3 linked regions of the Homo sapiens genome follow. The protein of the gene in region 2 interacts with the protein of the main gene of each other region in a biochemical or structural test. Each region holds a gene or a part of one and is shown on either strand. Other genes may lie near its edges. The genes, in order: H1-0, RNF168 and ATF6.

Region 1 (3,750 bases), on a different chromosome or scaffold from region 2:
ATTTTTCTATTTTATTAAAAATAAGAGAAAGACAACTGTACAGGTTTTTTCTCCCAGCTCCCGGGTGTGAAACTAAGTACTAGCCCTAGATATGTATATATACACAAACACACACATGCACACAGATCTAGCTCTGTAAAACTACTTAGCAAATCCCAAATCGACTGCAGTAAGTCTTACTATCCACTGCCCGCCCACTCCCCCTCCCCCTCCCGCAGCTACAACTACTTATAATAAAGGACTCAAAAAGAGATCGGGAGGTTTTAAGTGGCCGCAGCCCCACCAAACCAAGCAAAGACACCTCTTGTACAGGAGGAACAAAAATCCAGAGGAAAAGAAAAGTCTTCCTAGGACACAATCCATCGATTGCGTGGAAAAACCTAAGTTTCAACAGGGCACACTGAGGCACTTGGCTGACTCCCCACCCTTCCCCTGAAGTTTTCACTCCGGTTTAACAAGAGAATTTGCTGAAGCCACAAAGATCCCCCAATGGCTACATCCTAGCTGACTGGGAGAAACTATGGCTTCTCCCATCCAGCTGTCACTTGGACCCCACTCCCCTTCCCTAAGAAAATAGGGAGGCCGAAAGCGCAAACTAACAAAAATGAGAAGGAAACTGGGTTTGGGCCCCCACTGCTCACCACTGGGAGGTGGAAGTCAGCCCGGTGGCGGTTTTTTTCCCCCTCCTTCCTTTGCCGGCTGGCTGCTCCCTACCACCTCTCTCCTGCTGGCCAAAGGTTCTGAAACTCTCACAACGGGTGCCCAACTCAAAGAAAACTCACTCACCCTAAAGATATTCCTGCTAACCTCACAATTCCTGGGTTCCCTCTCATCTAGCCAGAACAAACTGCCTTGTGTCTTCTCCCCACCCACATCTACCTTCATGGCAAACAAGCCAACAAAACACACAAGCCCCCCCCGCAAATCCCTAACCCCGTAAGTAGGTTAATAGCAAAACAAAATATAAGTACATTCTCATCATTAGATTGGTTGTTGCTGTCCTTGCACAACTGGTTAAGGAAAAATGAATTATTCTGTAATTTCTGAAGAATCCAAATCCTGTCTCTTATAAAGTCAGAACAGAAGGGGGCAAAAGGTGGTGGTGAGCATCAAGAGAGAAAAAAGGAGAAAATTATTTACAGAAAATAGGAGACAGGAGGGAGTGTCCGCAAGAAAAGACTTCATTGTCACTTCTTCTTGCCGGCCCTCTTGGCACTGGACTTTGCTTTGGGTTTCACTGGTTTGGCCTTTTTGGGCTTGGATGCCTTGACCGGCTTGGCTTTGACAGTCTTGGGTTTTTTGGCTTTCTTGGGCGTGGCAGCCAGCTTCTTCTTGGCCTTCTTGACCGGGGTGGCTTTGGGTTTCTTGGTTGGGGCTTTGGAGGCAGCCTTCTTGGGCTTGGATGCCTTCTTTGGCGTGGCTACCTTCTTGATTTCCTTCTTGGTCTTCTTGAAGGCCACTGACTTCTTGGGTTCGTCGCTCTTGGCTAGCCGGAAGGACCCCGAGGCCCCCACCCCTTTGGTCTGCTTGAGGACACCGGTGGTGACCAGGCGCTTGATGGACAACTTGATCTGCGAGTCAGCGTTCTCACCCACCTTGTAGTGGCTCTTGATATACTTCTGAATGGACTGGCGCGAGGAGCCAGCGCGGTTCTTCTCGGCCTGGATGGCAGCCACGATCATGTCTGAATACTTGGGGTGGTCTGTGGACTTCTTGGAGGCCTTGGCCCGCTTGGGCTTGGCCGCAGGGGCGGACGTGGAATTCTCGGTCATGGTGGCCTGTCTGGTCCGGCTGTTGAAGGCGCCTTCCAAAGGGCCAGCCCTCGTCGGAGGCTGAGCAAAGCCTGCCTCGGGATCTGCTCCTGAGCCCCTGACTACCGGGCCAGTCTGGAGTGCGGCTCCCGGGGATGCGAGCGAGGAGTCGCTGCTTTTCCTCCCCGGCTCGGGTGTCGGGAGAGCTCGCCGAGCCGGCTTTGCGAGGCCCAGCCCCGCCGGTCTGTCGCTTGGTCTCGGCACCGGGCTCGGGCTCTGCCTCTGCCTCTGCCTCTGCCTCCGCCTCCTCTGCCTCCCTTTTCCCAGCTCCGCGTCTGGCGCTTGGGCGGCGCATCCGGGTATTTAGCGGCGGCGGGCGGACCGCGGTGAGGACAGGGCTGCTGGCTGCCTGCTCCCGGCCCGGAATGGCGCTGCGCCGCCGCCATCTGTGTTTCTTCCGCCGAGCAAATCCGACCTTTCCCCCCGGCCCGGGCCTTCCTGCTCCCCGCCGCCGCCCTGGGCCGCTGCCTGGCTCCCTGGGCTTCCCCGCCGGGCGGCCCGCTGGCCCGGCCGCCGCCCCCCGCGCCCGCCACGCACCCCAAACGGCGCCGAGGACCGCTGGTGTGCCGGCACATTTCCCCTTTGCGGGGGGCTGGCTCTGCGGGGCTAGGGAGCCTCGGTGCGGGAAACCCCCCGTAGCAAAGCTCTCCCCTGAGGCTACCGGGGGCTCTGCTCCCGGCCCGCTGCGGGGTCCCCTAGCCCGGTGGAGCTGCCGGAAAGCGGCCCCAACTAACACACGCGGCCCCGAGCTGGGCGACTCCCAGCCGGGCCGAGCCGGGACAGGGGGGAGGGGTCGCTCCCCCGGGGTCCGGTCACCTCTCGGGGGTCACCCCGCCACCGGTCCCTCCACACCTCTACCCCCTCTGTCCATGGGGCCCCCAAGGAAACTTTCCCTGAAAGAGTTGGAAGGGTACTTTCAAACTTTGTCCCTTCCCCCTCCTCTGCCGTCTCTCCCCCAGCGCGCCCCCCGACCTCTGCCTTGAGGTTCCCTCCTGAGGCCGAACCCCCAGTGCTGCCCGGACCCTCTGAGAGATGAGGAGGGCCTCCCGGGTGGCCTCTTCTCCTCAAAGACCCCTACATCTCCCATATACCCTAATCGGGAATTCATTTGTGTGCTTCTCTTAGCCTGGAAGTTTTGGGGTGTCAGAGACAGAACTCGCTGCCCCCCATCCGTGAGGCCCAGCCTGGGGGTTCAGTCCCCGTCCCAAGGCTCCTTGAAGGCAATGTGGGGGCGGGGGAGGGCGGTCCACAATGGAGAAGCTGCCCCAGAAGCTCTAACCAGGGACGGTCCGGGGGGCCCCTGTAATGAGGAGAGGCCCTGAGTGCTTTGGGGACTTGGGAAAGCGGGGCGCTAGGGTAGAGGTCGAGGAGGGGGTTATGTCCCTTGGGTTGTGACCTGTCCTCGGAAAGTGTGGAGTTGTTTAGAGAGCCGTGGCCGCGACCACCGCCATTTTGCTGGGAAGATGCGATGTCTTTGTTAAAATGCACACAGATTTTCCCGTGCTGCTTGGCAGGTGTAGACGAGGCGGACACGGGGCGCCACTGTCTGTAGGGAGTTCTGAAGCTCGAGGGGCTTTAGGGGCCCAGAGGCCAGCAGGAGAGACCTCAGAGACCCTAGGACCCCTTGTCTGCGGCCGACCTCCTACTCACGTGCCGGGTCCGCTTGGCAGCGGCCCTGGGCTGAGATTCTGCGACGTTTGCTCCCTGGGCCCCTCTCCCACAACCCCGCTTTTATTCCCTAAGCATAGAGGCCGGTCACTGTTCACTTAAACAATACCCTGGGAGTGGGAGTTTGTTGCTGGTCAAAATGATGAACGCATCCCGGTATGGTCCAAGAGCTGTTTGCAGACACAGTGGGCTACTGGGGAGGGGTAAAGGGGAGGGGTTCGAGGGTTTTGATGTTGGGGACGGGATCGTAGCTGCGTGGGTGTGGGAGGGC
Region 2 (3,750 bases):
CCTCAAATACAAAATTTCAACAAATCTTGGAAGGAGATGAGTTACCTGCACATATTTCCTCAGTTGAACCAGAAGTCCTTATGTATTTTTCAAGTCTAGACTGTGGTTTTTAAACTTTTCCAACTGTGAGTTACCATGGGAAAGCTGATGTTTGCGTAAAGCCACCAACTCCACCTGGCACCTGACCCTGGAGGGGTGTTGTGGTGAAACTCAATCACGCCACCTTTGTCTACCTGACTCATGCATTTTGTGTAATAGAGAAGAAATGACAAATTGTAAACTCTTTCAGTGAAGATAAGCCTATCTGGGACCCATTTTTTTCATCTGAATTTAAACCAAGAGAAAGAGGAATCCAATGGTTCACTTTGAGAAAACTGGAAATCCTGAGGCAGTAAGATAAAAGTATGAATCTGCCACAGTAAGTGGCTGAGTGAGAAGCCAAGAGGAAGCTGTGTGAGTAGCTCTCTCCTTTTCAATTTACCTCAACCTCAGACTATTTTCATACAAAGTTCACGGACCAAACTTTGAGAATCAGTAGTAGTCTATATGAACAGAAAACACTGGCATACAGTAGGAGGTCAACAAATAATTCATAGTCATGTTCACTTACTTCTGAATATCTCCAGTGTTTCTTTGTTTGTTCTTACTTTTCTTTTCAGACTTGGGTGTAACTGGATCAGATTTTCTGGAATTCAAGGGAGAAGCCGAGATACTTCCCTCACAGAAATTGTTCTTCAACAATAGAAAAAGCATAACAGACATTATGAGAGAGAACTTTATGATAAAATAAGCTATTAATTTGACTAATTCAGAAATCCATAGCATTTTTCAGAAATTATAGTTATATTTAAATTCTGTACATCTCTTGAAGAATATTGACCATGCAAAAATCAGAATAAACTATGTTCATCCAAGTTGGTCTAAATTAATTACATTTTTACTGTACATCAAGCACAAAATAAGGCATAATACTAACCTCATTAGCTGATAATTCCTGTTGATCTTTCTTTCCTTTTTTTTTTTTTTTTTGAGACGCAGTCTCGCTCTGTTGCCCAGGCTGGAGTGCAGTGGCGCGATCTCGGCTCACTGCAAGCTCCACCCCCGCAGGTTCATGCCATTCTCCTGCCTCAGCCTCCTGAGTAGCTGGGACTACCGGCGCCCTCCACCATGCCCGGCTAATTTTTTGTATTTTTTTTAGTAGAGATGGGGTTTCACTGTGTTAGCCAGGATGGTCTCGATTTCCTGACCTCATGATCTGCCTGCCTCGGCCTCCCAAAGTGCTGGGATTACAGGCATGAGGCACCGCGCCCGGCCTTTTTTTTTTTTTTTTTTTTTTTTTTAAGACAGGGTCTCACTCTGTCGCCGAGGCTGGAGTGCAGTGTAGCAATCATGGCTCCTTGCAACCTTGACCTCCCAGGTTCAAGTGATCCTCCCACCTTCACCTCCCAAGTAGCTAGGACTACAGGCATGAGCCACCAGGCTTGGTTAGGTGGGTTGTTTTTGTTTTATTTTGAGACAGAGTCTTGCTCTGTCATCCAGGCTGGACTGCAGTGGAGTGATCATAGCTCACTGTAGCCTCAACCTCCTGGGCTCAGGCAATCCTCCCATCTTAGCTTCTCGAGTAGCTAGGACACAGGCATGTGCCACCATGCCCAGCTACTTTTTTTTAAATGCTTTGTAAAGATGAGGTCTCACTATGTTGCCCAGGCTGGTCTCCAACTATTGGAATCAAGTGATTCCCCCACCACAGCCTTCCAAAGTGTTCGGATTATAGGTCTGTGCCACTGTGCCCAGCCTGTTGATTTTTCTAATAAATACTTTTATATAATTACTTTTATCTATATGGACATATTCAGAGAGCTGTGGATATACCCAAAAGAATAGTTTTATGTAATAATATTTTAGTTCTGGACTTTAAGGGCGTATTAATAAAAATCACAAATATTTACTTGCTGTACCAGTCTCGTAAGTTTCTTACTACCCTAATGGAAAAGTTCATATATGGTGATGGTGAATATTTGGCCTTAAACCACCAAACTTTCATAAATAAATAGAAAATTATTCTAGGTTGGGCATGGTGGTTCATGCCTGTAATCCCAGCACTTTGGGAGGCTGAGGTGGGTGGATCACATGAGGCCAGGAGTTCAAGACCAGCCTGGCCAACATGGTGAAACCCCATCGGCACTAAAAATACAAAAATTAACAGGATGTGGTGGCGGCACCTGTAATCCCAGATACTCTGGAGGCTGAGGCAGGAGCATCGCTTGAACCGGGAGTTGAGGTTGCACTACTGCACTCCAGCCTGGGTGACAGAGTGAGACTCTTGTCTCAAAAAAAAAAAAAGTTAAAAAAATTATTCTACAGTATCAATAAATCTACTCTTATAATACCATGGGAAAACTAGATATACTTCTTCCCTATTCCATTTATTATTCCATTGGTCAATGACTTTTATTTAGTTTCCTGATTGTGTATTTCTAAAGCGATTCTACTTAAAAAAGACACATAAAAAGGGGCATATAACCCAAAATTTGGGTACATTATTATTAATGGTAGGCCTCTCAAAAAAGAAAAAAATTCCCAATTCTGCGTATACTCATTTTGCTAAGTGTATATACATATATATTTTTTTATTCTATTGAACTTCCCATGATTCAATGGTAAGTGTATGTTAAGATATTCGTTGTTTGAAAGCTGAAGAATTGTTTTCACAGGCTCTCAAACCTGAATGTTTCACACTTCCCTACATGCCTCTGAAGATTGTATTCCCTAGGTCCCATCCCTAGAGACTCTGACTTAATAGATTTGGAGTAAATATGAGAGTTTGTATTTCAACAGCATTCCCAGGTTACTCTGCCAGGCTCGTTCAAACCACTGGGCCCCACAGTACCCTCTGATCTTAAAGTATGTGTTTTATCACACACCATTTAATTCATTTTCTTACAGGCAGCAATTTAACTACAGGAAGCAGAACATCCAAGTTTAATACATTATCTAAAAATTTAATGTGCCTTACTTTCAAAATGTGATTTACATCCATAAAATGGAATATTATTCCACTCTTTAAAAGAATTAGATTGACTACATGTAGTAATATGAAAAATCTCTACGATGTTATCAAGTGGAAAAAATGTAAGCAGCAAAACAGTGTGATTGCTTTATATAATCCTTTTTAGGTCAATAAAGAAAAAAAGCTTTTTTTTTTGAGATGGTCTTCCAGGTTGAAGTGCAGTGGCGAGATCAGCTCACTGTAACCTCAAACTCCTGGGCTCAAGGGATCCTCCTGCCTCAGCCCCTCCCAGCAGGTGGAGCTCCAGGCACGCACCATCACACTCGGCTCATTATTAATTTTTCTGAAGAAACAGGGTCTCACTTTGTTGCCCAGGCTGGTCTCAAACTCCTGGGCTCAAGCGATCCTCTCGCCTCAGCTTCCCAATGTACTGGGATTACAGGCCCGAGCCATCGCACCCTGGCAAGAAAAAAGTTGTAAGAAACTGTTAATAGTGGTTACCTTTGGGGATAGAGACTGATATAAATGGAAAAGGAACGGGAGTGGAGAGGTGGAAGAAGGAAAAAGGAAGCTTTCATTCTTCACTGAATAGCTTTCCTACATATAAAAAAGTTGTTAAACAACTTGCGGTGGCTCACGCCACAAACCCAGCACTTTGAGACGCCGAGGCAGATGGACGGCTTGAGCCCAGGAGCTCGACACCAGTTCAGGAAACATGGCAAAGCCCTGTCTCCACAAAA
Region 3 (3,750 bases), on a different chromosome or scaffold from region 2:
TCTTGTGTCCTCACATGGCACTGAGAGAGAGAATCTTCTTCTTCTTATAAGGCCACAGTCCTATCAGATTAGTGCCCCACTTTAATGACCTCATTTAACTTTAATTACCTCCTAAAGACTGTATCTCTCGATATAGTAATATTTGGGGTTAGGGCTTCAACATACGAATTTTGGAGGACACAGTTTAGGCCATAAATTCACAGTTTGCTTATCCACTTACCTATTGAAGCACATCTTGGTTGCTTCCAACTTTTGGCAATTATATATAAAACTGCTGAAAACATTTGTGTGCAGGTTTTTGTGTGGACATGCATTTTCCAATTGTTTGGGTAAATATCAAGGAGCACAATTGCTGGATTGTGTGGTAAGAACATGTTTTTTGTTTGTTTTGTAAGAAATTGCCAAACTGTCTTCCAAAGTGGCTATACCATTTTGCATTCCCGCTAGCAATGAATGAGCATTTTTGATGCTCCACATCCTTGCTAACATTTGGTGTTGCCAGTACTTTGGATTTTAGTCATTCTAATAGGTGTGTAGTGGTATGTTTTAATTTGCAGTTTCCTGATGACATATGATGTTGAGCATCTTTTCATATGCTTATTTGCCGTCTGTATGTTTTACCCTCCTCTCTCCTTCTCTCTTCTCTTTTACTCTTGCTTGAATTTGTGCAAAAGCTGCTTTATTCTGCTTTCTTCTTTCTTCCCTCCTCCTCCTCCTTTCTCCTTTCTCCTTTTTCCTTCTCTTTATTCTTCTGTCAGCTGTACTTAAGATATGTGTATCAAGATCAGAAGCTTTCGTCTGCCACTGTGGTTTCGTTTATGTCTTCAGTCTCTTCTGTGAAGGTTCTCTTGGCTTTCTAGCACTAAATCAAAATCTGGTGCTCCTGGATGACACAACTTCCCGTAATGCCCCGGTGAACGGTTGCTAATTTTATTCTCAAAACCTTTTCACCATAGGGCCTCTGTTGGTGGGATAGGTGTCTCCATTGTCCTTCACTGCTATTCTCCTTTCCTCCTCCCTAAAAATATCTAAGTTGAAATCTCATTTTGTCACAATATCCCATCCTCTACCTCTCCTGATTCCTGGATCACTCTCTTTCACTTTTCTTTTTTTCTTTTAGAGATGGGGTCTTGTTCTCTTGCCCAGGTTGGAGCTGGAGTATGCGGTGGAGCAATCACAGCTCACTGCATCTTCAGACCCCTGGGGTCAAAGGATCCTCCTGCCTCAGCCTCCCGAGTAGCTGGGACTACAGACACATGCCACCATGCCTGGCTTCTTTTTGGCTTTTTGAAAACATTTTGCCACTAGCTTACTGTTACTTTCTTCACCATTACTTCCATCATGATTCTTGGATGATTTCAGTATCCTTAGAGAAGATCCTTCAGATACACTGACCTGTCATTTTCTGGACCTCCTCTTTATCACTGATCTTACCTTTTACCCAGTCTCAGCCATTTGCTTTCCTGATCATAAGCCTAAGTCTTGTCACTACCAATAACATCTCACTTTCAAACATCCTGCTCTGACTGCCTTCGCCTGTTTTACCAGCTTACTTCCTTTAGTATTCCAGTTTCAATAGTTGTTCAGTCCTTCTGAGATTTTGCCATGTTTCCAGTGTCTCTCATTCTCTTCAGTTCATCACGTCCCTCTTACCCAGTTTAAATACCATGGACAGTCATTGTCACTATTTCCTTCCTTTCACCTTTCATATTCATGTCTGTCTCTTTTCTGGTAGGTTTCTCTTGGATAAACCTATTAGTTAAATTCAGTTTTGCCCACTTCATGCCTGTCCTAGTATAGCTGAATCAGCTGAAGAAAACACTTCAACTGTCCTGACTGGTCTCAATTTAAGTGTTGCCAGACCAATCATATTTCCCTGGTCCTCTCACTGTCCCATTCTGATGATTGCTTTATAAAGTTTCTTCTATCTTCAAACCTCCAACATCTCTCCCATCCTTTGAATCAGAAGAGAACTTCTACAGTCTCCCACTACCTCATTTACCCACCTATCAACATGTTTGCTTTCTCTTTTGTTGGTGAGAATGAGTGGCTTCTTGCTCCTAGCTAGAGCCAGTCCTTCCATATGTGCTTTAGATTCTTCCTGTTTTGTTCAAGAATATTGCTCAAGCTATTCTTCCTCCTGTTTCCTGCATCAGCATTTCCCCTCTCTACTAGATCATCTCTGTCAGTAAATGAACATGTTGTTGTTTCTCCTAGAAGTACTGTTTCTATATCTAGATAGTACTCTAGCTAGAGTTAAAAAAAAAAAAAACAAAACCAACAAACTCAAAACTCTCTTCAGATGTTACTTCACCTCTTGCTGTTACTGCATTTCTCTACTGTATGTTACAGCAGAATTCCTTTTAAAAAATGTCCACGTTCACTGACTCTAGTTTTTTATTTCTCCTTGTCTCTTGAACCCAGTCCAGTCAGGTGCCACCACTCCACTGAAACTCCTGTTTTTTTTTTTTTTTTTTTTTTGAGACAGAGTCTTGCTCTGTTGCCCAGGCTAGAGTGCAATGGCACGATCTTGGCTCACTGTAACCTCCACCTCCTGGATTCAAGCGATTCCCGCCTCAGCTTCCTGAGTAGCTGAGATTACAGGCGCCTGCCACCATGCCCGGCTACTTTTTGTATTTTTTTTTTTTTGAGACGGAGTCTCTCTCTGTTACCCAGGCTGGAGTGCAGTGGCTCACTCGGCTCACTGCAAGCTCCACCTCCCAGGTTCACGCCATTCTTCTGCCTCAGCCTTCCGAGTAGCTGGGACTACAGGCACCTGCTACCACACCTGGCTAAATTTTTTTTTGTATTTTTAGTAGAGACGGGGTTTCACCGTGTTAGCCGGGATGGTCTTGATCTCCTGACCTCATGATCCGCCTGCCCACCTTGGCCTCCCAAAGTGCTGAGATTACAGGCGTCAGCCACTAATTTTTGTATTTTTAGTAGAGATGGGGTTTCACCATGCTGGCCAGGCTGGTCTCAAACTCCCGACCTCATGTGATCCACCCGCCTCGGCCTTCCAAAGTGCTGGGATTACAGGCGTGAGCCATCATGCCTGGCCTGAAACTGCTGTTTTTAAGGGCACTACTGATTTCCACATTGCTAAACCCAGTGACTGTGTCTGATCTTATTAAACTTATAAGGAGTAAATGAATAAATAAATGGGCAAGGTGGAGGTGAGGTGGGAAAGTTTGTTGAGTACACTAAAAATAGTAACTACCATTATTTACTACTGTTGAGGGAAATCTAATAGTGTGGGACTGGTGCAAAGGATATAGAAATAGGCAATAGGTTTTAGGATACTTTGGGGTAACTGATGCTAACAGTTTCTTATGGATTCTTTTGGAATGTTCTATAAATATACGAGTATATTTATCAACCCACCTTCAGTTATTTTTTTAACCACAGAAAAGTCAAAAGATCAGTACACTGATAAACGTGCGTTTTCCTTATCTAGATTTACCAACTGTTAACATCGTGCCACATTCACTTTATATCTTAATATTACCCACACTTTCCTCCTTTTTCACATCTGAAAGTGGGCTGCAGATAATATGAAACTCCTAAACACTTCACCATGTATTTCCTAAGAATGAGGAAATGTTTATTTTTAAAAAGCATCAATTCATTTTAATATGCTTTATACTTCAAAGCTAACATCACAGGGTTCTTTTTCACCTTCTTGCACCATATGCTTGTATTTCTCTTCTGCCGCTATGAGAATCCTGATTCCCAATAACATCCTTTGTT

The links.
Region 1: the proteins of RNF168 (region 2) and H1-0 form a complex in vitro, tested with the Homo sapiens proteins (one study listed by IntAct).
Region 3: of the proteins of RNF168 (region 2) and ATF6, one has a biochemical effect on the other in vitro, tested with the Homo sapiens proteins (one study listed by BioGRID).

What each region holds. Positions count from the first base shown.
Region 1 is NC_000022.11:37,803,567-37,807,316, reverse strand, and holds the start of H1-0 (histone H1.0), read right to left. Parts: upstream 2,089-3,750; 5' UTR 1,773-2,088; coding exon 1,188-1,772; 3' UTR 1-1,187. UniProt on the Homo sapiens protein: Histones H1 are necessary for the condensation of nucleosome chains into higher-order structures. The histones H1.0 are found in cells that are in terminal stages of differentiation or that have low rates of cell division.
Region 2 is NC_000003.12:196,483,160-196,486,909, forward strand, and holds part of RNF168 (E3 ubiquitin-protein ligase RNF168), read right to left. Parts: intron 733-3,750; coding exon 611-732; intron 1-610. UniProt on the Homo sapiens protein: E3 ubiquitin-protein ligase required for accumulation of repair proteins to sites of DNA damage. Acts with UBE2N/UBC13 to amplify the RNF8-dependent histone ubiquitination.
Region 3 is NC_000001.11:161,770,505-161,774,254, forward strand, and holds part of ATF6 (cyclic AMP-dependent transcription factor ATF-6 alpha), read left to right. Parts: exon of another isoform or gene 1-2,111; intron 2,112-3,750.